2 separate regions of the Homo sapiens genome follow, and region 1 is linked to region 2. A link means that fine-mapping ties the variant in region 2 to the expression of a gene that starts in the linked region. Tissue or cell type: whole blood. Region 2 holds a variant in brackets; the other region holds the start of a gene. All regions are shown on one strand. Distances are from middle to middle. Region 1 holds the start of CACHD1 (cache domain containing 1). Region 2 overlaps CACHD1 (cache domain containing 1).

Region 1 (16,772 bases), 46 kb before region 2:
TGTACTAATTCAAGGTCAAGTCAGTTGGATGACATTGATAAACTATAGCATTTATACCATTAGTGCTTCTGATCCTTCAGAACATTTTGTGGTTAAGTTCCTCTATTTTGGCTTTCATACAGAAATGTTTAGATAGCCCAATTTTTCTGAACAATAGTTTCCACCTTTGCAAAATGGATTTGATCATAATACCTAAGCTGTTATTATGAGTCAGGATAGCACTTAATTAAGAATGATAGCCTGGACTTAAATAATAACACTAACACATATTACTTCTGAAACCTTGGGTAAAAAACTCAATCTTGTGAAACCTCAGTTTCCTGGTCTATAAAGTGGGGATGATTATATCTACTTAATATGTTCTCTGCAAGAATAAAATAAAATAATTCATTTAAAACACTTAGTGTAGTGCCTGGGACCTAGTGAAAGCACAATAAATGTTAACTATTATTATTATGACTCATAGAGTTTTAAGGATTGAATGAGATCATTTCATTTAAAACATACAGCATCACCCAAAGGACTATAAATCATGCTGCTATAAAGACACATGCACACGTATGTTTATTGCGGCACTAGTCACAATAGCAAAGACTTGGAACCAACCCAAATGTCCAACAATGATAGATTGGATTAAGAAAATGTGGCACATATATACCATGGAGTACTATGCAGCCATAAAAAATGATGAGTTCATGTCCTTTGTAGGGACATGGATGAAATTGGAAATCATCATTCTCAGTAAACTATCGCAAGAACAAAAAACCAAACACCACATATTCTCACTCATAGGTGGGAATTGAACAATGAGAACACATGGACACAGGAAGGGGAACATCACACTCTGGGGACTGTTGTGGCATTGGCAGAGGGGGGAGGGATAGCATTAGGAGATATACCTAATGCTAAATGATGAGTTAATGGGTGCAGCACACCAGCATGACACATGTATACATATGTAACTAACCTGCACATTGTGCACATGTACCCTAAAACTTAAAGTATAATAATAATAAAATTAAAAAAAATAAAAAATAAATTAAAAAAATGTTTTGCCACCTCAAATTAGTTTTTAACAAAATTAAGTGGGGTGTAAATAATTAGCTAATAAATATTCACCATGTAATTAGCTATTTCTAATTTCCTTGAACTTATGTATTGTTTTAGACATTTTCAAAGAGAAATACATAATATGCTTTTCTAAATATTTACTGTAATGAAATAATTAAAAATGTTTCAGCACACACACACACACACACACAAAATACAGCATCATGCCTAGAACCTAGTAAGCACTCAGAAAGTGTTAGCTAATATTAATAGTTATCTATTAATATTAATAGCTATCTATCTACAAGTGCCTCATGGCCTTTCCACTTGCTGTTCCCTATGTCTTGAAACTCTTCCTTATAATATTAATATAAATAGCTAGTATTAATAGATAATTATTAATATTATTTCCATATATAATCATTGTTGTCTGTGTTTTGTTTTGTTTTGTTTTTTGAGACAGTGTCTTGCTCTGTCACTCAGCTGGAGTGTAGTAGTACAATCTCAGCTCACTGTAGCCTCAACCTCCTAGACCCAAGCAATACTCTCACCCCAGCCTCCAGAATAACTGGGACTACAGGCATGCACTACCACACCTGGCTAATTCTGCTTATTTTTTGTAGAGATAAGGTCTCACTATGTTGCCCAGGCTGGTCTCGAACTCCTGGGCTCCAGGGATCCTCCTGCCTCGGACTTCCAAAGTGCTGGGATTACAAGCATGAGCCTCCACACCTGGCCTGCCTGCTTTATTTGTTTTGTTCCATCTCTTGTATTGCAGCCTCAATAGGTGGTTTAAATCTCTTATTGCTAATTCACTTTGTATATTTCTATGTCTTGCCTCCCTAGCCAGTGAGTGAGTGCCACAATTCTCTATGGGTTTCTTGCATTTTTGCATGCCTTGTGAGCAAGATGTTAACCACTCTTTTGTTCTGGACTATATTTTCAAAGACTTCTGCTTACTGAACAGCCTGGGCAGGTAGAGATAGTGTCTTTCTTTAGAGCAAAGGGAAAATTTGCTTTCTGTTCAATATATTAAACATATATATTTCTGGGGCAAAGGGCAGTTTTGTTTGCATTTCATCATAAAAGATTTGGGCTATCTAAGCTTGGGGTTTCTCTCTTTCAATACTACCTGTTGTATGCAGGTGTCACCTGGCTCTCTTCATATTGCCCTGTGGAAACTGGGTCTTGGAGGACTGGCACAAACGCTGACACTCTGGCTACTGCTATCGTTCTGAGCAATAAAGCCCTTTGTCTCTAATTCAGGAGTCTCATATCTTCTGCCAGCATCATGAGGCTGTGGTGGGTTGACTTGTTGGCTTGCAAATGGCATAACCTTTCACAGTTCCTAAGAGTGAAAGCAGATATTTGAAGGAAGAGCGTTCAAGACGGAACAGCAACAGGAAAGGCCGTAAGGCACTTGTTGGACGTAATATTCTCTGTCTTGATTCTCTGTCCTTTCTGATACCTGTAAAGTTCTTAAGGACAGCCAATCATATTCATCTTTATATCCCTAGCACCCAGCAAAATCATTGGCATATAGCAAATGCTCAATAAATGTTTGTTGAAATTAACAGGAAAAAATAATTGCTGCTTTGGAAATAAGGATGTTTCTTGGGCAGCGATTCATGGGGTGCCAAATAATATAATTTCTTTTCTTTTTTCTCATTCAGAGAGAGGCACATGATAGAGTTGCAAAATAATTGAGCTGGGAGTCAAACAGACCTGGGTTTCCATCCCACCTCTGCTGTTACTAGCCTGTAACCTTGGTCAAGTTACTTTACCTTTCTGAGCCTCCTTTTCCCTGTGTATAATATTGCAATGATCTTGTCTTCCCTATTTTGATGCTTAAATGATAGAATATAGGAAACATACTAAGAGATTAAGAAATGAGTCCGGGCATGGTGGCTCACTCCTGTAATCCCAACACTTTGGAAGGCCGAGGCAGGTGGATCACCTGAAGTCAGGAGTTCGAGAACAGCCTGGCCAACATGGTGAAACCCTGTCTCTACTAAAAATATTATATGGGCATGGTGGCAGGCACCTGTAGTCCCAGCTATTCAGGAGACTGAGGCAGGAGAATCTCTTGAACCTGGGAAGCAGTGGTTGCAGTGAGCCAAGATCCTGCCATTGCACTCCAGCCTGGCTCACAGAGTGAGACTCCATCTCAATGAAGAAAAAAGAAAGAAAGAAAGAAATGATATGCTGTGTGTCATATACAGCACCTAACCATAGAAGGGTTTTAGTAACTTGTACCTCTCATGGTTATTCAACCTTTACTGTCTCCCAGTTTGAAGGGAAATGGGAAACCTGATGATTTCTTAAATCAGCAGAAGAATGTGAAAAACAGAGAGAGTCTGTGTTCTAAGATTCAGTCTAGACCATTAACCATTTCCATTTATTTAACAACAAGTCGCTGGGCATGGCAGCTCATGCCTGTGATCCCAGCATTTTGGGAAGCTGAAGTGGGAGGATCATTTGAGCCAGGGAGTTTGAGGCTGCAGTGAGCCAGGATTGCACCACTGCACTCCAGCCTGGGTGACAGAAGGAGACCATGCCTCAAAAAAAGATTTTTTTAACTTAAAAATTAAAAAAAAAAAAATCGTAAGTTGGCACTGGCTGAGATTTGTAGTCTGCTAGAAATTAACAAGTGAGTGTTAATTTCTGCCCTAGGAATTACCAGTTCCATTCTCCTGAGCTCCCTGAGTTCACAGGTTCGATATAGTTTGCAGCTGGTTATTGTTTTATTTATTTATTTTTTATTTTTTTTTGATACGGAGTCTCACTCTGTCACCCAGGCTGGAGTGCAGTGGCATGATCTTGGCTCACTGCAACCTCTACCCCCCAGGTTCAAGCGATTCTCCTGCCTCAGCCTCCCGAGTAGCTGGGATTATAGGTGCACCACCACGCCCAGATAATTTTTGTACTTTTAGTAGAGACAGAGTTTCACCATGATGGCCAAGCTGGTCTTGAACTCCTGACCTCAAGTGATCCGCCCGCCTCAGCCTCCCAAAGTGCTGGGATTACAAACTTAAACTACTGTGCCCGGCCCAGTTATTGTTTTGAATAGGAGACCTGCCTGTAGCATTAGGCTGAGAATTTGTTGCTAACTTGGGTCTTATGTCCACCTCAGAGCATGTAAAGGGAATCACGGTAGCTTGGGAACTCCATACCACATTTCTGGAATTCTGGCCAAGAGTTCCTCAAAACAATTTCATATATAGTTTTTCTGTGATGAAGATCTTGGACAATGGGTACCATGAGGCGGCCTATCACTGAAGTAGCTTTATAATTCCCAAAATATGGAAGAGCAGCCAGTTTGATGAGGACTCTTGGTTATTCTTTAGCAGTCAAGGAGCAAAATTGTTACTGTAGCTCCTTGCATGAGAGTTATTGATTCATGGATTTTTCTAATTTTTCCCCCAATTATTTGGTTCAACAATTCTTGGATTTCTACTCTGGGTCTAGAACTATGCTAGACTCTGTGGCAGTGAATAAAACAGACATAGTTCCTGATAGGTCATTCCTCTGTAGGTGGTTAATAGAACACACCATGAGAAACATTGAGATGGAGAAAACAGACTTGCAAATGGACAATTGCAATATTAATTGCTGGAGCTTCTGGAAAGGAAGCAGATAATGAACAAGTGTCCAACTCAGTCATAAGCAAGGGGTAGAGGATTACTCTGTGGAGAATATAAAATCATCAGACAAGTTTCATGGTGATCTGTGGTCTTCTAGGGACAGTTGTGACCCACTTACCAGTCTTTTCATTATTTTGTAGTTCAAACAACTGCACAGTCAATAGTGTCCTCTCTGTATAGAATGGATGATTGAACTTATCTATAGAGTTACATCAAGACAAAAGACAGAAGAAAAGGGTCTATTATTAATAGAACATATAGACTGGATTTGGAATGAGAAAGTTCTGAAATCAAGTCAGTTCTGGCTCTTGGTGACAGTCTCTGTTACAGGCCATAGGTTCTATGTACTCCACTCTCCCCTGTCTGTGATTGGCTTTCTTAGCTCATTCATGGGGTCTGCTCCTTCACAGCTTCAGCTTGCAGAGTCACACTGCTACTTAATGAGTGTGTCAATGTACCAGGTCCTTTGCAAAGTGTTTTATGTGCCTTTTCACAAAAACTTTAGGTCGCATTATTTACATTGTACGGATGAAGCAACTGAGGCTAAGAGAAGTTAAGTTTTACAGAGACGACAGCTAAGAAGTATTGTCCTTGGGATCCAAACCCAGATTTTGTCCAAGATTCACACTCTCAGCTTTGCTATATGACTATGTGTGTGTGTGTGTATATATGTATACATACACATGTATACACGTGTATATATACACATACACATGTATACACGTGTATATATACACATGCACATGTATACACGTGTATATACACATGCACATGTATACACGTGTATATACACATGCACATGTATACACGTGTATATACACATGCACATGTATACATGTGTATATACACATGCACATGTATATATGTGTATGTATATACATACACATACATACACGTGTATATATGTGTATGTATATACATACACATGTATATATGTGTATATATACACATATGTATATATACACATATATACACATATGTATATATACATATATACACGTATACATATACACACATGCATATATATGTATATGTATTTGTATATATACACACACGCATATATATGTATATGTATTTATATACAGCCATCTAATAGCTATATTTATTCTATATCTATATCTGTGTACATATATATGTATACAGAGGTGTATACATACATATATGTGTGTGCATATCAGGGAATATATAGCCATGTATATACATCTGTGTATATATTTGTGTGTTTGTGTGTGTATGTATATATGTGTGTATATATATGCCTATATATTTTCTGCTATATACATTATGAGATTCATGGTTCCTATGGCCCCCTCTCATATCCTTATAGTTTTAACTACTACTTCTAACTGCTTTTTCCTCAGTATTTCCTAACTAAAATTTTTTAGAATGAAGTCTTGTCCCAGTTAATATTTCTGCCATGCCTTAGGTGCTGTAGATTGGTTGCCTTGATGTCACATATCTATCCTGGTCCCATCAGTTGACCCCCCCTGGGAAAGAATCAACTAGTACTGAGCAGAGATTGATGGGTAGGACAATTTCACTTATATGGATGAGGAACATTAAGGATTGGCAGTATATCACACAATAAGCTTTTATTGGTCTATCATGTACCAGTACACATGTGGGTAAATGTTCTCTCTGACGTCAGACTAGTAGCTCAGAGCTTTTGCTTTGGTGTTTGAAGGCCCAGGTTTGTATACTGACACCACCATCTAAAAGTTGTATTACCTTGGGCAAATAACTTTATTTCTTTGAGGCTTTTCTCTATTGGCAACATAGGAATAGCCATAAGTTCCTTTCCGGGTACTGAGACCCTCCTAGCTATAGACACTGGGCTAAATAGAGCTCCAGGATGCATGAGTTACCATCCTGGCAAGCTTGCTTGCAGTCTAGCATTAGTTCATAAGACTAATGTCAGGGCGGGGAAGGGGGGTCTATAAAATGCATATTCCAGGACCCACCCCCCACCTCCAAAGATTCTGCTTTAGTAGACCTGGAATAGAGCACAGGATTTGCAGTTTATTAAGTGTCCTGAGGCTAGTGTGTTTGGTGGATCACACTTTGAGAAACAAGGTGGAGAAATCAAAGCTTTCAAGTGGAAAATCACAATGTTGCTTGTTAAGCGCTGAGGGGACATTAAGTGCTGAGAGAAGAACCAAGAGCTTTGGAGCACCAAAGAGGAGCCGTAAACTCTGTGGGGGTAGGTGTCACAGAAATGACACCTCAGCTGAATAGGGGACCTAGCAAGTGGAGAGAAGGGGAAGAATTTTGAGGCTGCCATATAGGTGTTTTCTGGGAGTGGTGAGGCAACTGAGGGGCACAGTGGCTACAAAAAGGCCAGAAGAGCAAACAGGGTCAGAGCACAAAGGGCCTTGTTTGTTAAGTTTACTTATCTGTGATGGGGCATCAGAAATGTTTAGATTAGTGAATGACAAGTTGAGATTTGACTTTTAGAAAGTTGATTTTGACTTCCATGTGAAGAACAGAATGAGGGGGAACAGAGAGACTGCACAGAGACCCATGAGGAGACTGGTCATAATACAGGCAAGCTGCAATGAGGAACTGAAGTCAGGCCATAGGATGCAGATGGACAGCGGGGGATGGACACGGGAGATATGTTGGGAGCTGGGGTGGATGGAGAGTGCGTACCTAGCTTGCAGAGTGGGTGACATCCACCTAGATTTGCAGCCAGACATGGATTTAGGTGGAACATGGGGGAAAGCAGTAATGAGTTTTCATTCAGGTATATCTACTAGAGAAGTCAGGAACTTGCTAGAAAAAATGGAGATCCAGGTTGAGCTTTATTTAGAAGTATGATAAACTCGTGTTTGGTAATAATTGAAGGCATAGATGTGGTCGAGAGTCCTCAAAAAGAAGAACCTTAGAGTGAAAAAAAGGTGACATTGGATTAGCATCCCAAGAAATAGGACCTCAAGAAATACCAACATATAAAAGATGGGCAATAAATGCCTATTGTGAAGGCATTTCAGAAGGAGTTTAGAGATGTGTGACACCTTGGTGATGGTAACCTTGAAGAATCAAATAAAAAAATAATGCTATATGTCATTATTATTTTTGTTCTTTACTCTTCCACTAATCACATGGACTAATATGCTTTCTCTTGCGGAGTGTCATGTCAAAGGTACAACAATTTAAAAAACGGAAGTTAAAGGATCATCTTTCTAACAAATGTCAGCTCAACTCCAGGAATAGAAGACATACAGGTAGGTTTTTACCTCATTATTAACTCAAGAATCATTTTTCCAGTACTACTATGTGCTTGTGTGGATGATGTGGAGGTGAAGGGATTGGTCCCCACACTCAACATGCTTGCCTTAGTATGTAAAACAAACATCACAGGCTAGGCGCAGTGGCTCATGCCTGTAATCTCAGCACTTTGGGAGGCCGAGGCAGGTGGATCACCTGAGGTCAGGAGTTTGAAACCAGCCTGGCCAACATGGCGAAACCCTGTCTCTACTAAAAATACAAAAATTAGCAGGGGAGTTGAGAATGGAGAAGTGATCTCAATGAGGTAAAAATGGGCCAGGGAGAGCTTACAAGAGAAGATGACTTTTTAATACAATATAGTCAAAGATGTAAAACAGAAGGTTTTGCTGTAAAATGAAAAGAGTCCTAAATCCAGGTTCTAATCCTGCTACCACCTCTGCTAGGTAACCCTGGACTAGTCCTTTAACCTTCCAGTGTTGGCTCTGTTCTCCAGGAACCTGCAAGCAGCAACCACACAGGGCTTGGAAGGGAGAGTGGCTGTTCTCCACACACAGCAGGTTGACTTGTTCCAGGTGCTTCCAACAGGTGATTTCTCAGCGAGCCTGAGCCAGTAGTCAGGGACAAACAGGAAGGTTAACCTTGCCTCTCCATGCTTGGGAGAACAGGTGTGTGCGCGGTGGACTCCGGTTCAGTCGTTCTTTTTCTTTTTTCTTGCTTTTGATGGGATCAGATGGTTCATTTCCAAAGAGAGACAGAGAGAACTGTATCGTATTTAGGAGCAATAGCCTTGGAGTAAGACTTGTGCTTAAACTCTGGATTTGTTTCTTATCCCCTGGGTGACCTCTGGCAATTTATTCCACCTCTCTAAGCCTCAGTCTTTGTTACCTAAAAAATTGGGATAAAGATACGTACCTCCTATGGCATGTCGCGGAGATTAAAGGATAATGTGCACACCCCCGAGCCCAGTGCCGGGCACACGGTGGCTGGTTGCAACAGAAATCTGTGGGTGGAACGCTAGCTAGCCATTGTGATGAATAACATCAAGGAGAGGGAGTGGACCTACACATGGCAGTCCCCTTCTTCCCCAACCGCTGCCAGGCAGACAGCCAGCGTCCTAGAACTTAAAGGACTTTTCGATGGCTGGAACCTGGGCCGGGTGGGCTCCCTGGCGCGGACGGAGGCGGGGAGCGCTGGCGGGGGTCTCCGTCTCCAGCCACGGGAAGGTCCGTGGGCTCCCCTGCCCGGGCTGGGCCGGTCCCCGAGCAGAGAGAGAGGCTGGTCCCCCGGCCCCCGGCGTCCCGGGGGGCAGGTTCTGAGGCGGGAGCCAGGGAGAGAGAGGAGGGGCAACCGGGGGAATTTCCCCGCCTCTCTTGCTGGTTCCATAAATCACCGCAGCCGCCGCGGCGGCCCAGCCGGGAAGTGCACAGAGCCGGAGCGCAGCGTGGTGGCACCAGACGCCTCCCTTTCCCCACCGCTTGCTTTCTTTCTTTCAGTTGTGTGGGTTTGTGAAGCCTCCCCTTTCCCTCCTCGCTCGGGTGGCTGCCCCAGTCTCGCAGCCCGGCCGCCGCTCCTCTTCCCCGGGGGCCGCCGTCAGTCCTCGCCGCCGCCTGCTCGCTGCGCTGGGACTCGCAGGAAGCGAGAGCCGCGCGGCTCGGCTCGGGCTCCGACTCCGACTCCGATTCCGACTGTCAGCCCCGGGGCCCGCGCACCCCGGCCTGCGGGCGCCCCTGCTCTCGGAGACGCCCTCTGCGCCGCGGGGCCCGTGTGGGCGCCGGGCTCCGGGGACCGCTCGGGCGGCCGCCTCCTACCCCCACCGCCGCGGAGCCCCGCGATGGTGGCCGCCCGCGCTCCCGCGCTGTAGCCGGGCGCCCCCTAAGTTTGGGAGCCTTCGCCACCGCGGCGCGGAGCAGAGCCTGCAACAGAGGAAGAAACTTTTGCGGGGTGCGCCGCGCTTTTGCGGGGGGCACCTCCCGCGGCCCGCTTCCCCGCGCCCGGAGCCCGTCGGCGGGGAGTGGGGGGAGGCAGCATGGCCCGCCAGCCGGAGGAAGAGGAGACGGCCGTGGCCCGGGCGCGGCGGCCGCCCCTCTGGCTGCTCTGCCTGGTCGCGTGCTGGCTCCTGGGCGCCGGGGCCGAAGCCGACTTCTCCATCCTGGACGAGGCGCAAGTGCTGGCGAGCCAGATGCGGAGGCTGGCGGCCGAGGAGCTGGGGGTCGTCACCATGCAGGTAAGTGGCCCCCGAGCTGGCCAGACATCCCGCCTTTCTCCTTTGCTCAAACTCCCATCCCACTCCCGGTACAAGTCCCCTGGACTGTGTGCATCGGCTCCTTGCATACATAGAGCCCGGCTTCCCGTCGGACCCCTCTGTCCTCTGCACAGACCCCCTGACAATACACCAACTCTTCTTCCATGCATTCGTCTACCCCTGCCCTTCTCTGGAGAATCCCCTGCCCTCTGCACGGAACCCACTTGACCCTGCACAGCCCCCCTCTTCTGAGTACCAGCGCCTTCATCTCGTCAAGGATTCTCCAGTTTCCTCGCACGTCTTCTCTAATTTGCACACATTTCCCATGTAGGCTTGTTTTCACCCTGCCACGCCTGCAAACTCCCCCTTTGTGTCCCCATCCCAGAGCAGCCAGCCCCGTCTGGCTCGGACGATTTTCCGAAGTCCCCACCCCACCCCCTTGACCGCGTCCTCGCGTCCTCGCGTCCTCCCTACCGAGGCGCACCAATGGGCGCCGGGAGGGAAGGCGCCGCAGAGTACGCAGCTGCCCCGGGGACACCTAGGTCCCGGCGGAGAGCGGCCCTCCGAGTGGGCTCCGCGCTCCTTTCCCCTCCCGGGAGCATGGGGGGAGGGGCTGGCCTGGTAGATTCTGGGTAGACTCCCGACTCTAATCCTGCTGGGGGACTCTTTTTGTTGCTTTCCGCATATCCTGCTGTAGTTTGCGTGCTGTCTGCTGTATGATTTTTGTTTCGTGTGTGCCTTTTTGGGTCGAAGAAAAAGGGAGCAAAGTGAATAAGGTTCCCATTTCTCCAGATTGTTTATCATGTCCGTCCTCCTCGGGAGAGGAAGGAGGGCTGACAGAAAAACTGCCCGCAGCTAGTAAGGAATCCTGATGATGTTACTCACGACCAACAGTAGTAAAAATTGCTGAACACCAACCACCTGGAGATTCTGCCCCGCTGTTATTTTAATCCACTTGGCCATAAAGGCCCACTAGATTAGGAGAGGTTGAGATGACATTCCCAGCTTGAAACCTTTGCTATAACATTCTTAGATAAAATAACACCATTCTCTTACACATTCTAACAATCATGGGGATGAATGTGGTCTTCGAAAGATTGAAGTTTCCAAGAATGCGTTCTTGGAATAGGTTTCTGATTTCCATCCTACTGTGACCACTCCTTCCACCTCCCACCGGGAGAGGTGTTTAAGTCACTTTTGGGATTTAGGTTTCTTACTTCTTTCTTCTTCGTCGCGTCGTCCTCCTCGTCTTCTCCTTCTCTTCTTTCTTCCTTCTTCTTCCTCCTCCTCCTCCTTCTCGTTCTTCTCCTCCTCTTTCTTTTCTTTTTCCTTCTTCCTTCCTCTTCTTTCCACTTCCCCACACCAATCTCCTCCCAAGAGGTTACAATTTTCTTGAGGAAAGTTCCACAGACCTTCTCTACTGTGGGGAAAGACCACCGGAATTTTTTAAAGGGTGACATGAGGACTGAGGAGTGGATGGATTTTGAAAGGTAATTTTGCATTTATTTGCAGACACCCAGCCCTGAAGTGCAATGGAGTTGGGTTTTCTTGATTTGCATAATAATAGATAAGCTTTTAAGATGCATCATTCAACTATGCCGATCTTTCAGGTTCAGATTCAGTTGCAATTTTTTCCATATGCATTTTCTGATTTCTGATTATTGCTGAGTTCTTAGGAGTGAAGTGACTTTTAGAAAAGATAGAAAACTAGGATTAAAAAAACAGTGGTGAATATTTCCATTCAGAGCACAATTGTATTTTTGCATTGAGGCACCTCTTTTAATAAAGGAAACTTAATATATTGGAGTTGTGGACTCTGCTTGTAGGATTTGTAGGCACTTGCCACCTTCACTCCATCCCTAGGGCTGGACAAGAAATCTTAGGATTCCCCCCTATCCCGCCCCCCCACGCCTTTTCCTTGTAAGCTAAGGACTTGCTTTTTCTAAGATGCTGACAGCCATTTTACTGTTTCTCACCCAGTCCTTGACAAAAGGTGAAATTGGATCCCAACACATTGTCATTCAGGTAGGGATCCTAAGCAAATGTAGTTTTAAAAGGCTGCCCTGTTGAAAAAGACACTTCGAAAAAAAGCTCTGATCGGTGGGGGGTTTGTGCCCAAATGGTCCTTTATCTCCTCCCAACTGGCCTCTTTCTAACACCTTTGCAACCTCATTGTGGAAACGGACCTCCTGTGGACAGGGTTTTGTCTGGCAAAATGTGAAGTGGCTTCTCTCCTTTTTTGAAAGGAGACACACATACTGTATTTAAATTCTGCTTCTTGAGCTGTACATTGATCTGCCACTTGCTTCTAACTGGGAAAATTGCAGAAAGTGTCTCTTTTTAATTTAGTTAGACTGGTCGGAAAAAAAAAAGTCGAATGCAGGTTAGATTTTTGGCCTTAGAACAAAGATTTTGAGCCCCACATTCTCATCTGTAAACCTTTGGGATTTGTTCAGTGGGTCTGAAATTATGTGGGTTTAGTTACCTAAAGTGTAGGTTATATAGCCCTCCCTGCAGCATGATGGATTTTATAGAGGTGGAGCTAATCTGTTTTTCAGAGGTAAGCCTCACATAGGCTTTAAGGTGTGACTTCCTACGAAGATGGTCAGGGTGGGGGTGGAGAGGGGGATAGTTGTGTCTCTTTGGAAAAGAATGTCTTCCCTTGCTTAAGGGATTGACTCCTTTCATTTGACCTTGGCATTTTGAGCATAGTACAGGCCTTTCAGGACACCATCTCACTTTATGAGAAACATTCTATAGGCCTCTTTATATGTAAAAAGCCAATGTTCAGACTTTTATATTGCTTCTGCTGCTGAAATTCTCGAAAGACGATTTTAAAGTTTGAGAAATTATAAAGTAGCCCTCAAACCAGGCCTGTTGTTTTGCAGCATTTCAAGTGGCAGCACTTACTGCTTATAAGGAGTTGCAAGGGGGTAATTTTACAAAAACAAAAACCTAGGCTTCTTTTAGCACTATAGTTTCCCATGACGTAGTTTTCGCACTTGCTGATAGAGAAGACAGTTTGAAAAGCGTCTACCTTGAAGATTTTCTTGGAAAATTCTCCAGTGGGGGCTGCCTACTCATGATTTTTGTTGTTCCTTTTTAATAATGGACAAAATATATTTTAAAAAATCTTTAAATAAGTTGTGCCAACCAATTTTGCCAGTACTCTGGGAAAGCTGTCACTGAATACTGTTCCCCTGACAGCAGACATCATACATCATGGATAAAAGTCAAAAACCTAATCATCATCTCCTCATGGGTCTGGTGCAGAGGAGCCATGGTGGCATTGAGGTCTGGGAGCAGTAAGTGGCTGTGTCCAGGGAGACGGGTTTTTGCCTATTTATTCATGCAACAAGTTTTTATCAAGCAGCATCGTGGAGTGGAAAGAGCCCCACATTGGGTAGGTAGAGACCTGGATTCCAGCTCTGCCATTTGCAAGTTGGGTGATTTTATCTGTAAAATTGAGGATGGTGATTCTTCCTCAAGATTTGCTCTGTGGACTTAAAGGAAATAGTGCATGTAAAGGCATCTGTTAATGTTAAGCCAGGGCTGAGAAATATTGATGGATGTGGTTGTTCTCAAATGGAGAAATGATTATTGGAAGCTTACTGAGCATGGAGCTCTATGCTGGGTATTCAGGGGATTTTACAAGGACGTATTCCAGCACAACTCCTTAAGGAGTTTACATTCTCGAGGAGGAGATAAGATTGCACAGGTAAACCAGCTAAGTAACAATGCCTGCTTGTTAGAAGGCATATCTGGCTCTGGGAGCCATTTCGCCAGGCACTTATAAGGCCCATTTAACATTATAGGACAGTACAGGCTTCCTAACAGCAAGGGCCTGGCACAAGGCCAGTGTGCCTGCCTTAAAGTTAGCCCAACTCTGCTGGGCTGGGCACACTTACTATGAACTTGGCAGACAGACCAGCAGGTTGGTCAGACAGCTGCTGGATGAGGCCTGGGAGGGAGGGAGGAGCAGGGTTTCTTCCAGTCAGGGCAGAAGAAATACCAGAAGCAAGAACTGGAGCTTCAACTCCAATTGAAGAAAAAGCAGCAGCTAGAACAGAGGCATGTTCAGGAACTGAAGGACTCAGCTGGGGCAGAAGTGTCAAAGATATAAAGCAATGTTGTAAATACTGACTACAGCTGGAATTAAAGAGCAACGCTTCTTTGTATGCAGTAAAACAACAATGCACTAAATTCCTTCCTTTTTTTTTTTTTTTTTTTCTTAAGAGACAGGATCTTTGCTCTGTCACCTAGGCTGGAGTGCAGTGATGTGATCATAGTTCACTGTAACCTCAAACTCCTGGGCTCAAGCAGTCCTCTTGAGTAGCTGAGACTACACACACATACCATCACACCCTGCTAATTTTGTAATTTTTTGTAGGGATGGAGTCTCACTCTGTTGGCCAGGCTGGTCTTGAACTCCTGGCCTCAAGTGATCCTCCCACCTTGGCTTCCCAAAGTTCTGGAATTACAGATGTGAGCTACTGTGCCTGTCCTGCATTATTCATTTTCGCATATATCCAACAAAATTTTGGGGAGCTTCTGCTCTATGAAGGGTCTTGGGTTAGATTTTATTTATTTATTTTTTATATTTTGAGATGGAGTCTTGCTCAGTCACCCAGGCTGGAGTGCAGTGGCGTGATCTCTGCTCACTGCAACCTCTGCCTACCGGGTTCACGCCATTCTCCTGCCTCAGCCTCCTGAGTAGCTGGGTCTACAGACGCCTGCCACGACACCCGGCTAATTTTTTTTGTATTTTTAGTAGAGACGGGGTTTCACCATGTTAGCCAGGATGGTCTCGATTTCCTGACCTCGTGATCCACCCGCCTCGGCCTCCCAAAGTGGGGTTAGATTAAACTGGCAATCACAGGTGACTAAAGCCTAGTCCATGCCCTTAATCTGTCAACTAATGATGGAAATAGACACAAAAAGAGGCATTATGATACAGGTGGTTAGCGAGAGACATAGAGGCATTACACTGCAGTAGGTTAGTGCAGTGGTAGAGAGAGAAACAGGATATTATGGGAGCATAGAGGAGCCTTGCCCAAGCCCCTCTGGTGAAGTCAAGGAAGTTAGCTACTTCTCCATTGTCCTTTTCAGTGAAATGTCCACACACACAGGCCAGTCCTGAAGGAAGCAGCAGCAGCAGCAGCAGCAGCAGCAGCTTCACACATGAAGGGTAGCCAAATCAGTAGTTCATTAGATGTTTCTGATTCCTTTGGTGGCACTGGACAAGGTAGCTCGTGTATCTTGAACACCTGAACAGGACTCTGACTCCTGTGCCCCTTCATATGGCTCCCATGTCTCATTTCTTTGGCCATTATCCTAGAGCTTCTGTGGTTATTGGACATAAATATCTTGCTGGCTCTATTATAACTGCAAGCTGATTTGCAGTCATGTTTGGTAAGATGTGTAATTTCCTCTAAATCACATGCATCATAACAGGACAGGGCTGGTTTAGAATGATTTGAATGTGTAATTACGCAATATAGAATATTTTCGAAGGAAAAATCACCTGTATATGCAAATAATGTGATTTGATTCTACGCCTTGTGTACCATATAAGCCTTAGTGGAAAAACTGCTGTGTTGCTTTCTTTTGAAAATGGATATTTAGAATAGAAGAAAACTGTCCATTGACGGATGACTCTGAGTTGAACTTGTCAGGAATGAGCCCAAGAAAAAGCATGTTGAATGACTTCTGATAAACTGTCTCTGTTGTGCTTAGCACTTCCTGGACTTCCTTCTCACTAATGCCTATCTTTGCTGGCCTTATTCCTTGTGCTTATTATGTTTTTCCTGCCAATAGTACTTGAGTCTGGAAGGGCTTGGGGGAGGGAGAGGAGATGGTTTTACACTTAGTAACATGTTGCTGCTATTTCTGGTTGCTGCTTGAGGAGTTCCTTCCTTGAGCTTAAGTGGATGAGCAGGCAGGAACCTTGCAGAACTCTGGAATTTTGGTATTAGATGGAGTGGGATTTATTTTAGATATGCTTGGACCTTGGAGTAAGAATTTATTGAAAGTCAAAATATGAAGGGACAACAGGGACAAGAATTTTGACTCAGCCAGTTAGTTATTAACTGTGTAACTTCTGTCATGTTATTAAATCACTCTGAACTTTAGTGTCTTTGTATTTCATGTAGCTAATGGGAGTAAATATATTTTAAAGGATAACCAAGTGTCTAGCTCAGGGCCTAAGGTAGGAGCAGTCAATAAACAGAAATGTAAATATGAGAGCAGTTCATTTAGTGCCAGGGCACAGAACCGGGAAGGTGGTAAACATGTAGCTCCTAAGCCTGAATGAAACTGAAATCTAATTTGTAGACCTGCAGATTTCAATATGGTCAATCCTCTGCCCCCAGGTTTTTAAGATATGGTTCACGGACCTTTGGATGTGGTGCAAAGCCATGCTTGGGGCTTTCTGAAGAAAATGCTAGACCTGGCTAGTCATAGTTATTTCTTTAGTTTTAAACTACAAAGATTTAAAAACATATACAAAAGTAAATAAAATAGCATATGAATATCCACATACCTCTCACCCAGCTTAGACAGTTATTAATTGATGGTCAGGCTGGTTTCATCTCTACCTCTGCCTCCAC
Region 2 (16,772 bases):
TGAGGTCCCAAGGAAAAAGGCCTTGGAAGTTCATGACTCGTAAATTAGTATGTGTTTCACACATCATGCTTTGAAGGTTGTTCTTGATGTGTTAGGATAGGACCAGGAGACTGACTTTAGGATCACAGCTACCTCCCCGGAACCTCTCCTCATTTCTCCCAGCTAGAAAGGGTTCCTTTTACCCTACTTTCGTGCCTCTGTTGTACTCCTTACTGGAGTCTTGCCTTATAGTTGGTTGTATCCAATCTGCCTGCCCCACTATGTTATACATTCCTTGGGGCCAGGGACTGCCCTACCCATCTTTGCTTTGTCCTTGAGTTGGAGGCCACAGTTGAGACCACAGCATATGCCAATTGAGTTGAACTAGTGGGCTGCCTGGTTAATGTTGAGATGAAAGGTGATGTTTTTTACTTGTGTTGATGTTGTTGTTATTTTACTTTCTGGGGTGTAAAAAGAACATCTTGCATAGGTAGAGGTGGAGCATGGGCTCTAAAGCCTCCAGGGAAGAAGCAGGGGCAGGAAAATGGGAGAACTGGAGTAGGAATCCGCAGACAGCCCAGGAGATAGAGAATGTGGAAACTCAGGTTGTATTAGGAACACGAGCCAGGAAGAAGTAAGAATAAGTTTTCAGGAGCTGAGAGTGAGAATGGAAATTCAGCTCAGACAGAAAATAGCTTCTTTTTGATTTGTCAAAAATGTTATATTTAGTGGAAAAAATACACCTTTAGGAGTCAGAAGACTTGAGTTCAAACCACCAGTATGTTGCCTGGGCAAATCATTTAAAGTTGGGGCCTCCATGTCCTCATCTTTAAATCTTAAAGTAGAAAAATGAATGTGTCTCATCTCCTTCTGTATTAGTCCATTCTCACACTGCTGTAAAGAAATATCTGAGACTGGGGAATTTATAAAGAAAAGTGGTTTAATTGGCTCAGGGTTTCATAGGCTGTACAGAAAACGTGGCTGAGGAGGCCTCAGGAAACTTAAAACCGTGGTGGAAGGTGAGGGGGCAAAGCAGGCAAATCTTCACATGGCCAGAGCAGGAGGACAAGAGAGAGAAGGGGGAGGTGCTACACACTTTGAAACAACCAGATTTTGTGAGAACTCAGTCATTATCATGAGAAGAGCAAGGGGGAAATCCACCCACATGATCCAATCACTTCCCACCAGGCCCCTCCGTCTTCCAACATTGGGGTTTACAGTTCTGCATGAGATTTGGGCAGGGACACAAATCCAAACCATATCACCTTCTTGATGTGTTTTTATAGGAATTACATGAGAATGCCTGGAGAGGTATTCTTGTATTAAGTGTAACGCACTACACAAATGCTGGTGTGAAGGTGGGTGAGAGCTTCTGGTGGAAGAAATAGCACTGGATTTAGCAGGGGCTATGAGAGCATATGATCTTTTTTGTGTGTGTGACCTTGGATTAGCAAATTTATCTGTCTAAACCTCAATTTCCGCATGCGTAAAATGGGGATAATCATGCCTACCTTAAATGAAATGGACCTGCCAGGCAAAGCACATATGAGTTGGGTCTGTCCTGGAAAACTTGTTTCAGTGATTGACATTAAACACCTGCTGCCCTTATTTAGATATATTCCTCTCAAGTCCCTAAGTTGTTCTCTCACTAAGCCTGAGAGTGAGAGGGCTAAGTAAGATAGAGACGTAGTGCATTTAGAGAACCATACTCAGTCTTCTGTTAAGACACTACCAGGTCTGACACTGGCTTACTGCCGCAGGCTGTTTATTACTCTTAAGCCCAAGACAACTTCTGCAGTCTGGATAAGTTGCCTCCCTAGTTCATCTTTTTATCCTTGAAAAAGGCCCAGGGCTCCCAGGCATTTTCTTTTCTTTGGTGTCTCCTGCCATTCCCCACCCCCAGGGTTCTTCTCTTTCTATGATTGGCTGCTACTCCCCTCATCTTTGCTGCCCAGATGGCAAGCACAAAGGAAAAAGGTCTTTTTTTCCTTTTAAGGCTTTTATTGCTAATTATAAGAGAAAAAGCAATAGGGCCACAGGACTGAAAATTTAATGAAGTTCATACTCTCTTTTTTTCTCTGTTAGCTTGTTCCTAACTATGAGTATGGATGAAAAATGCTCTCTGCTTTTATTTGTGAGGGTTGGGGCTGCTCATCTCTTTGAACTGTCATTAGCAAAAGGCTCTATAACTCCCTCTACCTTGGCATCTTTCATGCCTGTGTTACCCGCCCCTTGTAGCAAGTGTGGAGTTTTCATTTTTTAGAGATCTCCAGACTTGTTAATAACAAGTTCACTGGGCCTCAGCTCTGCCCAGGAGGGACTAATTGCAAAGTAAATCCCAGGCCATAATAAGGAATTGATGAAAGAGCACCATCTTTAATCCTTTCTTTGGCTTCAGCCACTTGTTATTAAAAAGGTGTATTTGAATCAACTAAAGATGAACAGCTTTAGTTCATTTGTCTTTCTTGGCTTAAAAAAATGGTAGGAAGGAAAAGGATCTCAGGGTAAAACACTCAAGTTATTCAGTAATTTTATAAGTCTTTATTTTTCTTTGACCATGAAATCAGCCCTAGGGTGCTTTTTAAAGTAGGGAAGTTTTGTTAAATCTCCAAGGATAGAAGGAAAACACTACAACATTATATATAAATGCAAAATTAAGACTGTGAAGTAGATTTTATGATATTTTTTCAAAACCTAATCTAGATACCTATTTTAATATTGTGACATTTGCATCCCTTCTCAGTTTATTAACAATAGGAGAGATTTATTTAAGACATAGCAGAGACAATGATTCTCAAACGAATACTCCTAGATGTATTTTGTCTTGCACGATTACTGTTAAGATTTTTCAGTTTAGGATTTGGAAGAAATAATACCTTTCAGAAAAACATATTTTTTAAATGCTGAAAAACTGGCAACCCAGATAGAACATGCCCCACATACATACATTTCACATTTATGATAGAATAGTGAAGAGATATTACAACATTCATATAAAACCTACATTTAGGATGACTTAGAGTGCTAGTTAAAACTGCTTTTTAAGGAAAATTTTAATGGGAGTCAAGAGCCAGGAGCCTCAGGTGAATTCTCAGTGCTGGTACGTGACCAGCTGCGTGAACCTGAGCAAATCAGTATCTTCTCTTGTCACAAAAAAGGGATGCGGAGGTAAAGTAGAGTTGCTCCAACAGCATTAAGATGAAGATTCAGTGAAGTTTTGGACATTTATTGCTGTTTCAGCTGACTTGCATCTTTGCACCCTTTCAGCTCTAGGAGCCAATGGGAGCTACAGGGGAAGGCAAGTGATCCTCTCTCCTGCCGTGGCAGCTGGGGCAGTATGTGTGTTACATACACTAGGCCATTAAGGACTGTTACCTGGGACTTTGAGCATTAGGCAGCAATAGAAATGGGACAGTCAATAATTTTAAGGTTATGGAGAAAAAAAGAGGGTCCAGTGACGACGGAACAGCCAGGTATTCACAGTCGCCTTTCAGCAAGGTTGTTTAGGTAGCTTAATCTCCTGGGCAATGTTCTCAACTACCTAACCACTAAGTTTCTGCCTCTTGTTGTGTTTCTAGTGTCTTTCTAATAACTCTTTCTTTTTTCTGATTAAGTTCATTTCTGTCTTTTATTTTGTTGTTCTGGTGGTCATTATTCAGTTTTGCACAATTTTTAAATTGCCAAAACCAGAAATTGCCAGAGAGATTGGGTCACTGGGACAAAGATTCAGATACATGCAGACAATGCCAAGTGCTCCTGTAAATCTCTTGCAAGATTGTGGTATGATTTAAATAAGATGTTGCATATTGGAGTGCTGTGGGTCCTTGAAAGTTCAATGCATGTATAATTGTTATTCCTGGAGGTTGTAATGAGGGGAATATCTATGGGATTAATATGGCTGTGGGTACATTGGAATTTAGAGTGTCAAAGGCCACTGGATTTGGTAATGGTTCTGGTCCTTGTAGTGGAGAATCCATTTTCCTTTTGCTGATATCTATGTGGCAGGTAAAACGCCTTTTAGATCATAGATATTTTGGACTGTGCTTATTTTTAGTGTACCTAAGATCTCTACAGGTATAGGACATTAAAGCAGATGGAGTACGGTATGTAGTAGGTTTGCAAATGAAGGAGACTAATCGTACTTCTGCTGTAGAGCAGGCACTGTACTTTAATCTGTTTTTTTCCTTATTTGATGTTACTTCCTCTTATTTTATAGATGAGGAAATCCTCACGAGAGGAAGTCTTAGTACCTTGTCAAGTATCAATTAACTGTTATAAGGGTGATTGAACATTCACATCCAGGGCTTTTATATTTCAAATCCCTGGTTCTTTCCATTATAGCATGCTAGGATCATGAGAAAATAAAGAAGTGGAAGAAAGACCAGAGAAAGGAGTAGGAATTGCCTAGGAAAATAAACAACCATCAGGTTCCAGAGAGAGGTTATTAGAAATCTAGAGTTCAGACAAAGAATCATAAAATTGCAAGATTAGAATGGACCTTAGAGAAGTAGAGCTCACCACCCTCTCCAGCTCATCTCTCTCTCCAACATCTCCAAGTGGTCACCCAGCCGCTTCCCGCTACAATGATGGGGAGTGTCTTACTGCAGAAGACAATCTGTTCCATCTGTATTTAGCTCTGGCCACGAGGAAATTATTCCCTATGAACCCCAGGATTTCCTTTGGCTCCAAGTTTACAAAGCAATAATTAGCACTTTGAGTTGGGAAAGCTAGACAGCAAAGTGGTTATGAACCCCAGCTCTAGAATACAATTGCCTTCCTTTGAACTACAGTTGCCTTCCTTTGAACTTGAAATGGGCTTTCTCAGCTTATCAGCTGTGTCCTTTTCTCATCTGAACATGGTGGCCATCTCACAGTGTTGATTTGAGAGTCAGATGAGATAAAGCATTTGGCATAGTCACTGGCATGTATAGTAAGACTTTTTAATAAGGTTTTATATATAAAGTTACTGATTGTTATTATTTTCCATAACTCTATGAGGTAGAAATTATTATTCACACTTTCTAGATCTTAGAAACTGAGGCACCTGCCTGATGGTCACAGAAAAAGCAAGCAGGGCTGGGCATGGTGGCTCAAGCCCGTAATCCCAGCACTTTGGAAGGCCAAGGCGGGTGGATCACCTGAGGTCAGGAGTTTGATACTAGCCTAGCCAACATGGTGAAACCCTGTCTCTACAAAAAATAGAAAAATTAGCTGGTCATGGTGGTGCACACCTGTAATTCCAGCTACTTGGGAGGCTGAGTCACAAGAATGGCTTGAACCCAGGAGGCAGAGGTTGCAGTGAGCTGAGATTGCACCACTGCACTCCAGCCTCGGTGACACAGTGAGACTGTGTCTCAAAAAAAAAAAAAAAAAAAAAAAAAAGCAGAAGCCCTCTGGAGTTCAAGGGCAAATGATTCAACTTCTGCTCTTCCCCTTTTAACACTTCCTGCTGTTCCTCCTTTACTTTGAATGGAGAGAGGCTACTGCAGGCCAACTGGAGTAACTAAGACAAAATAACAGTCTGCAGGTGTGGCTAGGGACAGACACACACACCCCTGCCAATTTCGGGCTAAATTCAACATTTCCACTCTTCAAGTTGCTGTACCTTCCTCTTTTCTTTCTCCTAAAGAGGAATTTTCATTTGAAACTGTTATTTCAGTCATTTGTATTCTCTGCTCATCAGCACATGGATTAGTTGTAACTTCATGTAGTTGTTTTGAATAGCTGATACAAAAAATCTTTTGGCGGGGTAGAACTTGGTTTTTCAGTATATGCATGTAAGTTTGATATGTGGTTAAGTTTTTTCTGCCACCATTTAAGTGACTTCTGGACTCTTTCATTATCAGGTAAGATATACTTTATATTAGTGGATGTTAATCTCTGACCTCTGGATATTTTCACACAAGTTCATGCCAAACAGAGGCACAAATTTCCATCCTTGTTCTGTTTTTCCATTCTCCATTTCTATTGTCACATTCTGACAGCCTGCCACCAGAGTCCAAATCTTTATTCTGTTGCAAGCTGGGTTACCTTGAGTAAACCACATTAATTTCTAGCCCAAGATTATCCATCTGCAAATTTACAGCAATATTTCTGTGTTCATCTGGGTCATTCTAAGTCAGGTTTTCCCAACCTTAACACAAATGACATGTGACGATGGCAGGGGAGGGGGCTGTCCTGTGCATTTTAGGATGTTTAACAACCTCTCTGGCCTCTACCCATTAGACACCAGCAGTAACTTCCTCCAAGCTGTGACAATCAAAAATGTCAAGTGTCCCCTGGGGGGCTAAATCTTCCCCAATTGAGAAATACTGTTCTAAGGTGAAACACTGTTTTATGTTGAAAGGCTGCTGTAAGCCATAGAGCTATAAGATAACTACTAGATATTTTATTAAATATCTGCTTTATGTAAAGCACTGTGCGAATGCCATGGAGAAAAGGAGGAAGTAATCATGTATAAGGGCATCCTTGCTTCCCAGCAGCTATGGTGGGTGGAAGTGATACAGGTAGAATTTGATAAATCTGTAAGATTCAGGAGATATTTCAAACACAAGGCATTTGACATTTGAGTTGCATCTTGCCAGGAATGGTAGCCATGAAAAGGACTCAAAGGAAAGAGTGCTTACTTTCTAGTTTTTTAATGGGCTGGCAGTCAGAAAATGGAAATGAGTAAAGTAGGCCTTGAATGCCTGTGACACAGCTGGAGATGGTAGGAGCCACCTAAAAGAAACAGTTGCTGTTCAATGGAAGCCACTTGTTGGCAGCAGGAATGTTAGTCTGGGGATGCCAGATCTGCTAGTTTTTCTAAAGATGTTGGAAATCCAGATTTTTATAAGATGTAAAATTTCCTGAATTTTAAACATTAGCTCAATTTAAAACAACAACATGTGTGAGTCAAACAAAACACCTATGCAGGTTAAATTAGGTTGCCAGTTTGCGGTTTCTGTTCCAGATAATCTTTTTAGGAGGGACACTTCTCTCATCCTGTCTCTTAAAAAACAATTGGAGGAAAAGTTAAATTGGTATGTTCCTTCATACTTTATACAATTCATTTCCATCCGTGTTTTACTTTCTCTGTTTGAACCTTAGCTATCAAGATAAAGTTTAGATCTGAAGTGTTGCTCTAAGTAAAATAACGTTTTGGAAACTGTGAACATCCCCCAGTTAAGAATTCTCCAGGGTCTTCAGCTAAAAGTGAAACCTGGAATGATTGCCAGTGAATGCTTTTTGTGGCCTTGGAAATTCAGAGTGATTTATCACTTGTTGGTAATAACTGGAGGCCTCTATATACAAGAAGGGAGTTAAAGAGGCCAAAAATAACAAGTCTAACCATATGGCTCTTTTCAAGAGGTGTCCATATGGCTATCTAGTTAAAAAGGACTCTTGCCAGCTTGACTGTGAGTTTTCTTTTTTGTAGCTCGATATAAAAGTCTTCTAGCTTTAACATTGTAACAAAGGAATTCCTAGGTTTCACTTCTAGGTTTTGAAAAACTGAACTGGGCAGTGGGGGAGGAATGCAGTTGTAGGCAGCTGAGCTAGATGCATAGTTGACCATAGGATCATTGGTATTTACCACAGCAGCAAAGCTATGTGATAACTCCTATTTATATTCTTTTTAGTCTCCAGCAGTAGTTTAGCTTTTTATGATGGTGTCAAAGTTCCAAGTCTGACAGTCTAACTCAGTGTGCCTTCTTGTTCTCAAGAATGGAACATGCAGTACTTTGTCAAATGCCTTGGTGAAAATAAGATATGTATTAATTCTTATAATTTCTACCTGTATATTAAATTAAGTGGCATAATTTGGCCTGATTTGTTCTTACAGAATCCAAATTTGTTTTTAGTAATTACAATTAAATAACCTATTCTATAATATGCTGAGAAAGAAGCAAAGTTGACTGGTTCCTAGGTTCCGGAGCTCATATTTGCCCCCTTGGTCATAATGGAGACATCTTGACTATGTGTAATCTCTAAATCTCTTCATTGGTATGCTGCCATCCATGTGATTTTGGTCATACTGCATACAGTATTGGATTATTTAGGAGGAAAATACAGAGAAATAAATGTATATGCTTATGGCATAGAAAAGTGAAAATTTTGGATCTAGATTAATCCAAATGGTATTAATTCTTAGATTTTCCTTCCAGCAAATCCCGAATCCCCATTAATACTAACTATTTAACAATTTCTACTAATTTTAATTGAACCAGATACTTACAAAAAATAATTGCTTTGGAGTGTCCTTTGGAAAACACAATTGGGGAGCTATGGAAGTTATGTTCAGGTTATGACAAAAACAGACAAGAAATAATACAAACCCTACTACTTTGTGCAAGAG[A/G]CTGAATTTAAATTACCCTAAGAGCCTCCTCAACTCAGATGTTTCCAGTATGATTGGTGTGACATTTGTTCAGGTTCTTTAGAATATAAGCATATGCAATTAATAATGAAAATGAATTCCTATCCTTGCAAATTCAAAGTATCTCAAAGCATTTTTTCCCTTCTTAAATCATTTTGACTATTAGTATTTGTGTTGATATGGCTTCCTCACATGAGAAATGCTATTATGCAACAGCTGTAGTTGTGCTGCCTGAATGCATGCCAGTTCTGTTCAGATTGAGCCACAGGGACTGCTTGTTAGCTCCCTAGCTGCCTGGGAGAGAGGGTAATGTAAAATTAATGTATGAAGAAAGGCCTGTTATCTGACACTATTTGGGGATGCAGGTGGTCTGAAGTGGTGTGCAGAAATTAAACTAACATGCTAATCTTTCTACGATTATAGAAAGGTGGCTGGGATTCATGGTTTCAACTCTTGGTATTAATTTTAAAAATTGGGAAGGGCATTGACTTGACTCCTTCTTTTGCCTAGCTCTACTTCCTAAACTTGAAGCATGTATAAAACTTGAGATTATCAGATACTTTCATTTTTTGGAATTCAGGGCATGTTTCATAGTTTGGAAAGGAAGTGGTAGAAGAGATTGTTAATAGGATTTTCATATATAGGTTGCAAATATCTGAAAAAAATATTTGTATATTCAAGTAGTCTTTTTCTTGATAAGTAGCACATAAACTAGACCAACATGCAACATTTTCAAATTAGTTTTAAGTTAAGGACAAAGTAACATGGGTTCTTCTTCAGCAATGCAGTCCTAATTCTAAATATACCTGTCCGTTTAACATTTTCTTTTTTCTCCTGGTGATTCTGCAATCAATTATCGCTATCTCTCCATTCTCATTTTAGCCAAAGCAAGCAATTTCAGCATTTAATGTTAGCATTGCATCCTATGATGTTCAGTACATAACTTGCAGTAGCATTTCTCATGTGGTTCTAGAACAGCTGTTTTGCTGATCTGCCTCATCTCTAGACTTGGAACCTGTCGTACTGCCTAACAGACCAGCTTACGGTGTTCATAAACAAAACACCCGGCATAATGCCTGGCACACGCTAGGTACTTAGTAAATGTTTACTCATTTATGAGATTCTGTCAGTGAGGCTGTCACGTTGGAAAAAAGGAATGACCAAATGATGAGCCAGACTCGATTATGCATTTTCATGAATATTATCTCATTTAATCCTTAAAACAGTCTTGCACGATAGGCATCATTATCTCTTGGTTTAGCTTATTACTCACACATTGACCTCAGAGCTGGTTAGGGGGAAGAGTCTGAATCTGAACCCAGGTTTTTATCTTCTTATTATTGTTCTTTCTACTATACCATAAAGCATATTCTATAATATAGAAACATTTCTAGGGAAATTTTTTTCTGGAGACTTGTCTCTGAATTTGCTGGAGCAATTCTTTCTTGTATTTTAAACTGTTCCTCCTAGTAAACAAAATTGCAAAACTTGTCTAGCAGAGCTGGAGTGGGAAATTCAGCATTGCAATTAACTGGAGTCAGACAGACTTGGGTTTTCATTCTGACTTCTCCACTTACTAGCAATGTGATCTTGTGCAAGTCATTTAAGCCTCAGTTTTGTCATGTAAATTGGGGATGCTGTTAGTACCTATTTCATGGGCTTGTGATGACATGAAGCGGGGAAAGCACTTGTTATATGTGTGAGACATAGTAGGTACTGAATGCTAGCTGCTGTTATTGTTAGTGAATAAGTGACATCTCGTTTATTCAACAAATATTATTCATTACATTTGATCCTAGCCAAAAGGCCAAGAAGTGATCTGCAAATATTTTTTCAGTGTATACTATGTGCTTTTAGTTCTACTAATTCATCAGTGATCAAAACAGACAAAAATCCATTTCTGCATGGAGGTTACATTCCAATTGCATTCCATTGGGGAGAGCTAGACAATAGACATCATGAATACTGGGAAATAAATGATATCATATGTTGGAGAATGGCTAGTACTATTCAATAAAAAAGAAATAAAGGAGAATTAAGTGAGTGTGGGACAGGGGAGAGTTGGCAGGGAGCTGTGGGGTTGCAATGAAATAAAGTAGTCACTGGAGGCCTCATTGAGAAAATGATAATTGAGCAAGAACTCAAGGGGAGACAAAGGAGTATGCCATGTGGATTCTCTGGGCAGAGCTTGGCCCAGTGGGATGAAGAGCAAGGAGGCTGATGGGGCAGGAAGACAGTAAGAGCATCACTAGGGCTTTAAAGGCCATTGTAAGGGTAAGGGGAACCTGTGGGGAATCTTGAGCTGAGGAATGACGTGATTGACTTTAGATTAAAATTGTGATCATTATCACCATGAGCTTCTCCTCAGGAGGAGGGACCTGGACAGTGTAGCACCTTTACCCGATTACTCTTCTTTCTCCTATTAGCTTAACCTTTTACACTTGAAAAGTATATTCCACCACCCCAGGGTAGCTGCCCTGCCTACTCTATGTCATTGATTGAACTTGGCAGTCCTGTGGCTGTAATGGTTGTATTCCTTGGGAAACAAAGGAAATGATTAGATCTTAAGAGGGAAAGAAAGTAGAATCCTGTGGTAGCACAGCTTGTGATCCTCTTTGAACATGACTTGATCTCTTCCAGGCTTCCCTTACTGAACCAGGAAACCTTTGTAGAGGATCCTGGGAGGTGTTGGTTTGGTTTAGTGTTTTCTAAATGTTTGTATCTCCTTACGGTGAGAGGGATCCATTATGGAGCAGGGGGAAGAGCTTAAGTGTAGTAATTTGTCAGCTCATGACCTGTGCTTAACTTCTTTCCTCTAAGATAATAGCAGCGGACATACTCTCAGCACACATGGGGATGGAAAACATTTCTGTGCTACTTCTCCAGTGAAAATCAATGACTTTTTTTTTTTTCACTTTAAGTTCCGGGATACATGTGCAGAATGTACAGGTTCATTACATAGGTATACATGTGCCATGGTGGTTTGCTGCACCTATCAACCCATCATCTAGATTTTAAGCCCTGGCTTTCAACATTCAAGATGGTCTTCCATTATCTCATTTATGTCCTATTATTCTCAATCAAGTTAATTGGAAATCTGTTTTTTTAGTGCATGTACAGGAATATGGCAATATCAGGGAATGGTAGAGAAAATGGAAGCAGGTCTAAGATGCAAAATTTAACACAGAATCACATGGATTGGTGGAGTCAGAGGATCAAGGTCCATGCCCAGCTCTGTCAAAGTAGTTGTGTGATTGTGCCATGTCTAAGCTGGAGTTTCTTTGTGCCTCATGGGATAGGAAGAAAGTAAGGTATATAGATGGCTAGTTTTGTGACTCCAAATGATGGGAATCACTTTTCTGGTGAAGTTATTGCTTGAGAAGGGAAAGAGGATGGGACAGTCCTTGTTTAGCCTTTTCTGGATAACATCAGCATGCCTAGTGTGGGTATTTTCCTGCTGCCTTATTCCCTGGGAGTTGGAGCCTTTGTCTTTCTGTCAGGCTATTTACAACCTATTGTGTTCTAGAACCCCATAGATAAGGGCTTAGTGACTCCTTAGCTTGTGCCTTCCAACCTTAGTGGTTCTATCAATATCTTTGTGTCCCTCACAATACCTTGAATTTCCCTTCCTCATTATGTTAATTATTTGAGGTAATTTTAGAGATAGGTACCATTTAACTGAGTGAAAGCTTTACAATTGAGGGGTTACTCATTAGCAGGACCTGGGTTTTGTTTTTAATCTCATTAACCCCTTGTTACCCATTTGATAACAAAGACTTCAAGGAAGAATTTGCTCAAAAATCTCTGGGAGACAGTAATAGCTTCTTGGGCCTGACTGATAAACTTTTTGCCTCCAGCAATGGAAATGTGGGAAAATTCCAGATGCTAAATGATCTGGCTTGGACCCAGCAGGTTGAGGTAGTGGAGCCTTTCGATTGAGGCACAGCCCAGGACTGCTGCAAGGGAGAGGCACAACAGATACCATAAGGAGGTCTGATTTCTGAAAGGAGTACCATAGAAAAATTATTGATCTGTCCCAGGCCTCAGTTTCCTTGTCTCTAAAGTGAAAAGATTGACTGACTTAGTAATAGGGAACTGATTTTATTCTAATAATGTAAAAAATACCTACCAAACTATCTGGTAAGTCTGAATTAACTTTTTTCCTTCCAGCAAAAAAAATAAAAAGAAAAGCATTACCAGTGACTGCCCATTAACTATCAATCAGATCCTCTGAGCAGTTCTAGTTCACCAGAGTTAACCAGAGTTACTAAGCTGGTGTAATTCCTGGCTCAAGCCAAAAAACTTGATGTTTTAGTTAGTCTTATGACGAGCACATTTTGAGTTTTTTTCTTTTAAAAAATAAAATATTGCAAACAGCTCTCGGTCATTACCACCTGTTGTAAGCTGATCTAAGCCAGTTCGGTTATACACAACTCCTAGGTGCTTTTTTCTGGTGAATTTTGATAGCTGCCAGATTATTTGAGGTGAGAGGTTTTGCTACTATCCCACAACCTTGCCACCTACTTATAGCTAGTGCAAGTCTGAGACATTCTGCTGCACATACAGACGTTGATTAACAGCCGTATATCAGCCAGTAGGCACAAAATATTTCTGCAACATTACTCTCTATGCTTGATAAAGTCCCAGCTGTCTTCTTTTAGTTGTTCTGCTCACCACTTTGCATGAAAGCTGTACTTGTAGACATTACAACATTCCAGAGGAGAGTTCTGTTATCTTTAATAGTCAGCATCAAGCAACTGGAAGTCCTCCAACTGTGCCGGACTCATGTCCACTTAGGGGACAAGCCTATCAAGGCTACACTCTTATTCATACAAGGGTAGAGGTATTTCTAGAATATTTTGGCCAATTCTCATAATTTGAATATATGTTTAAGTTTACCAGGGATGGCCCATTTCTCACATTTATATTGCTAGCAAAGAAGCCATTCGTCTCACACACCCACACAAATCCACCTCTGACATTCACTTTGCTAATTGGCAAAGGGCCTGGTGTTAATGAACATGGATGGTGGAAATATTTGCAGTGTGTCTTTCTGGAGTATGGGCTTCATGCTTAGAACACGACCTGCCTACCCCTAGAGTGCATTCCTGAATATAATGCCAACCACATTTGAGTTGTAGTTTAAACTAATTAACTCACATGCAATATCTCATTACCTATACTGAATTATTGTTAAGTTAATTAGGCATCCTAACATTGCCTTTGGAACCCCACTGTGGAAACCACTGTTACTAATGTCACGCTGTAGGAGTAGACTTTGAAATGATTTGTAAGGATTCTTTTGCTTAAAAAGCACTGATTAACTTCCACATACTCGGAACCATGTCTTGTCACTGGGTGGGAAAACATATTAGTTACCATTTACTGAGCACGTAGCATGTGTGCAGTCCTTTCTGTACATTGTCTCTACTCCCCCTCTAATCAACTGTGTGAAATAGAGACTTGGCTCCATTTCATAGATGAGAAAACTGAGACATGCAGTGGGAATCTTTATCTAAACCTAGGTTTATCTCTACAGGTAGGTTTATCTCTGCAGGTAAGGCTTTCCTATTAGTCCTATTGCTGCATAACAACTTACCACAAACTCAGTGGCTTAAAACACCACAAATTTATTCTATCCCAGTTTCTTTAGGGTAGAACTCTGGGCTAGGTTCTCTGCTCAGGGTCTCACTGGACTGAAATCAAGATGGCAGCTGGTACTTCAGTTCCCTTGTGGGCTTGGAGTCTTCTTCCAGGCTCACTGGTTGTAGATAAGATTCATGTCCTTGCTGTCGTAGGGCAGAGGTCTCAGTTTCCCTCCTAGCTGTCATCTGGGGGTTGCACTAAGCTCATGGAGGCTATTTTGTGTCTTGCCCTGTGGCTACCATAGACGGCTCACAACATGTGTGGTGTTTGCTTGTGGGCCAGCTAGAGTATGTCTTTGATCCCCTCTGGCCCTGGCCAAAGAAAACTCTGCTTTTAAAAGGTTCATGTAATTAGTTTAGGCCCATTGGATAATCTCTGAATTATCTGAATTAACTTTCTGAAAGTTGCTGTGCCATGTAACATATATAATATGTGGTCTTTTGTGACTGACTTCTTTCACTTAGTTTAATATCTTCAAGCTTTTTACAGGCTGTGACACATATCATTACTTGATTCTTATTCATGACAATACTATTCTATTGTATAGATATACTGTATTTTGTTTATTCTTCAGCTAATGGACATTGGATTGTTTCCACCTTTTGGCTATTATGAATAATGCTGCTGTAAGTGTTTGTGTAGAAGTTTTGATATAGATATACATTTTCATTTCTCTTGGGTATATGTTTTTGAGTGGTATTGCTGGTTCATATGGTAACAGTTTAATCATTTGTGTATCTTCCCTGGAAAAATGTCTATTCAGATTCTTTGCCTATTTTTAAATTATCTTTTTATTGAGTTGTAAAGATGCTTTATATAGTCTAGATACAAGTCTCATCAGATATATGATTTGCAAATATTTTCTCCCATTCTATGGGTCATCTTTTTAATTTCTTGATGGCATCCTTTGATGCACAAAAGTTTTTAATTTCGACAAAGTTTATTTTTCCTTTGTTTCTCATGTTATTTGTGCCATGTTTAAGAATCATTGGCCAAATCCAAGGCCATGAAGATTGTCCCTGTGATTTCTTCTAAAACTTTTATAGATTTAGTTCTTACATTGAGATATTTGATCCATTTTGAGTTAATTTTTACATATGTTGTAAGGGTCCAACTTTATTCTTTTACATGTGGATATCCAATTGTCCCAGCACTATCTTTTGAGAAGACTCTTCTTTCCCCACTGAATGGTTTTGGCACCCTTCAAGACCATAGATGGCCATAGATGTATGGGTTGAAACAAGTTCTTTTCTTTTCCTCTCAACCCCCACATTTTTTTTTTGTTTTTTTGAGATGAAGCTCGCTGTGTCTCCCAGACTAGAGTGCAGTGGCATGATCTCGGCTCACTGCAACCTCTGCCTCCTGGGTTCAAGCAATTCTCCTGCCTCAGCCTCCCGAGTAGCTGGGATTACAGGCACATGCAACCACGACCGGCTAAATTTTGTATTTTTAGTAGAGATGGGATTTTACCATGTTAGCCAGGCTTCAACTCCTGACCTCAAGTGATCCGCCTGCCCGCTTCAGCCTCCCAAAGTGTTGGGATTACAGGCATGAGCCCTGGTCGGAGCAAGTTCCTAAAGTTCTGTTATGTAAGATGTTATCAATGGGGGAAGGTGGTTGAAGGATACAGGGAAACTCACTTTATTATTTTTGCAACTTGTAAGTCTGAAATTTTTTCAAAAGAAACTTAAAAAAAAAGTCCTTGAGGCATAGGCAAAATTTAGTAGATTTGGATTCATTTAATAGTTTCCTCCTAATCATGAATTTAGGAAAATCCTAATGATGAAAATCCCAGTGAGAAAAATGGCTTCCTGTATTTTATTCTGGTGTGGTATCCCTTCCAGGTGAAAGAACATTGCATCTTGGCTGCAAGAGAAAGAAAAGATCCTCAGTAATGTTTGGAATGATTTGAGTCCAGGGAAGTAGACCATACTGTGTCATAAGTGCTGGCACAGTTTTAAAACAAAAGCATAAGTAGCCATGATGGCCTTCCCTTCTGTTTACTGCTGCCTCCATCTTCCCCAGTAGAGCAGAATTTGAACCTGACTGGGTATTTGGTGAAATTCTGGAATTGCTATTAGTGTGACAATGGTATTGTTACTTTTATTTTACAAAGAGTCCTTATCTTTCAGAGTTTTATGCAGACTAATTGTAGATGACACAATATGGTATCTTTCATTTTATTCAGAAATAATCTAGGTTGGGGAAAGTGAGCATATAGATGAACAAGATTGACTATGAGTTGGAAATTACTGAAACTAGGTAATGGGTATGTGGGGGTTTATTATACTGTTTTGTCTTCTTTTATAGGTTTTCCATAGTTAAAAAATAAGTTTTCTAGGGGGTTGTTTTTAATATAGCATTGAGGCATTTGAGTGGCATCTCCATTTGGAGCTGGCTTTGCTTTACATAAAAGTGAGTCTTTCTGAGTTTGGATGCTTGTGCTATCTAGGTCTGGAGGAGCATTTTGACAGACCTGTGAACAAACAGTTCCTGGAACAAACACTTTTAGGAGGCTGGATCCATCTGAGGCTTGCTAGAGCCCTGACAGAATAAACCTGTGGCTCACAGTGCCGTTTTTCCTTCATGTGTTATTGATGTTAATCAGCCATGCCCTTGGTTGCAGGGTTATGTGAGTCTTTTTCTGAAGCTTTTTAAGCCTGTGATTCTGTAAATCTTTGTACTTTTTAAAATGTAAGTTGACATATAAAATGTATAAAGCTGATAACTAGAAAAAGTCAGAAATAGTCTGTGGAGAATCTGCTCACTTGGGGTCGAACGATATTCTTTTCCA

What was found.
Region 1: CACHD1 starts here. The variant in region 2 is fine-mapped to the expression of CACHD1 in whole blood (TOPMed, PIP above 0.99).

The regions. Positions count from the first base shown.
Region 1 is chr1:64,460,797-64,477,568 of GRCh38, forward strand. It overlaps CACHD1 (cache domain containing 1), which reads left to right and starts at 9,333. Exons shown (of 27, transcript NM_020925.4): 1 at 9,333-10,146. The coding sequence starts at 9,949. LOC107984966 (a long non-coding RNA gene) reads right to left here and starts at 9,229. Exons shown (of 2, transcript XR_001738100.2): 1 at 8,390-9,229; 2 at 7,477-7,574. RefSeq lists a silencer at 9,543-9,662 and enhancers at 11,462-12,247, 12,248-13,033.
Region 2 is chr1:64,507,059-64,523,830 of GRCh38, forward strand. The region is part of intron 1 of CACHD1 (cache domain containing 1); the gene reads left to right. Among named protein-coding and RNA genes, the nearest start is that of CACHD1, 45 kb to the left of the region's middle. RefSeq lists enhancers at 9,746-10,561, 10,562-11,375. The variant A/G (reference allele first, on the strand shown) is at 8,315.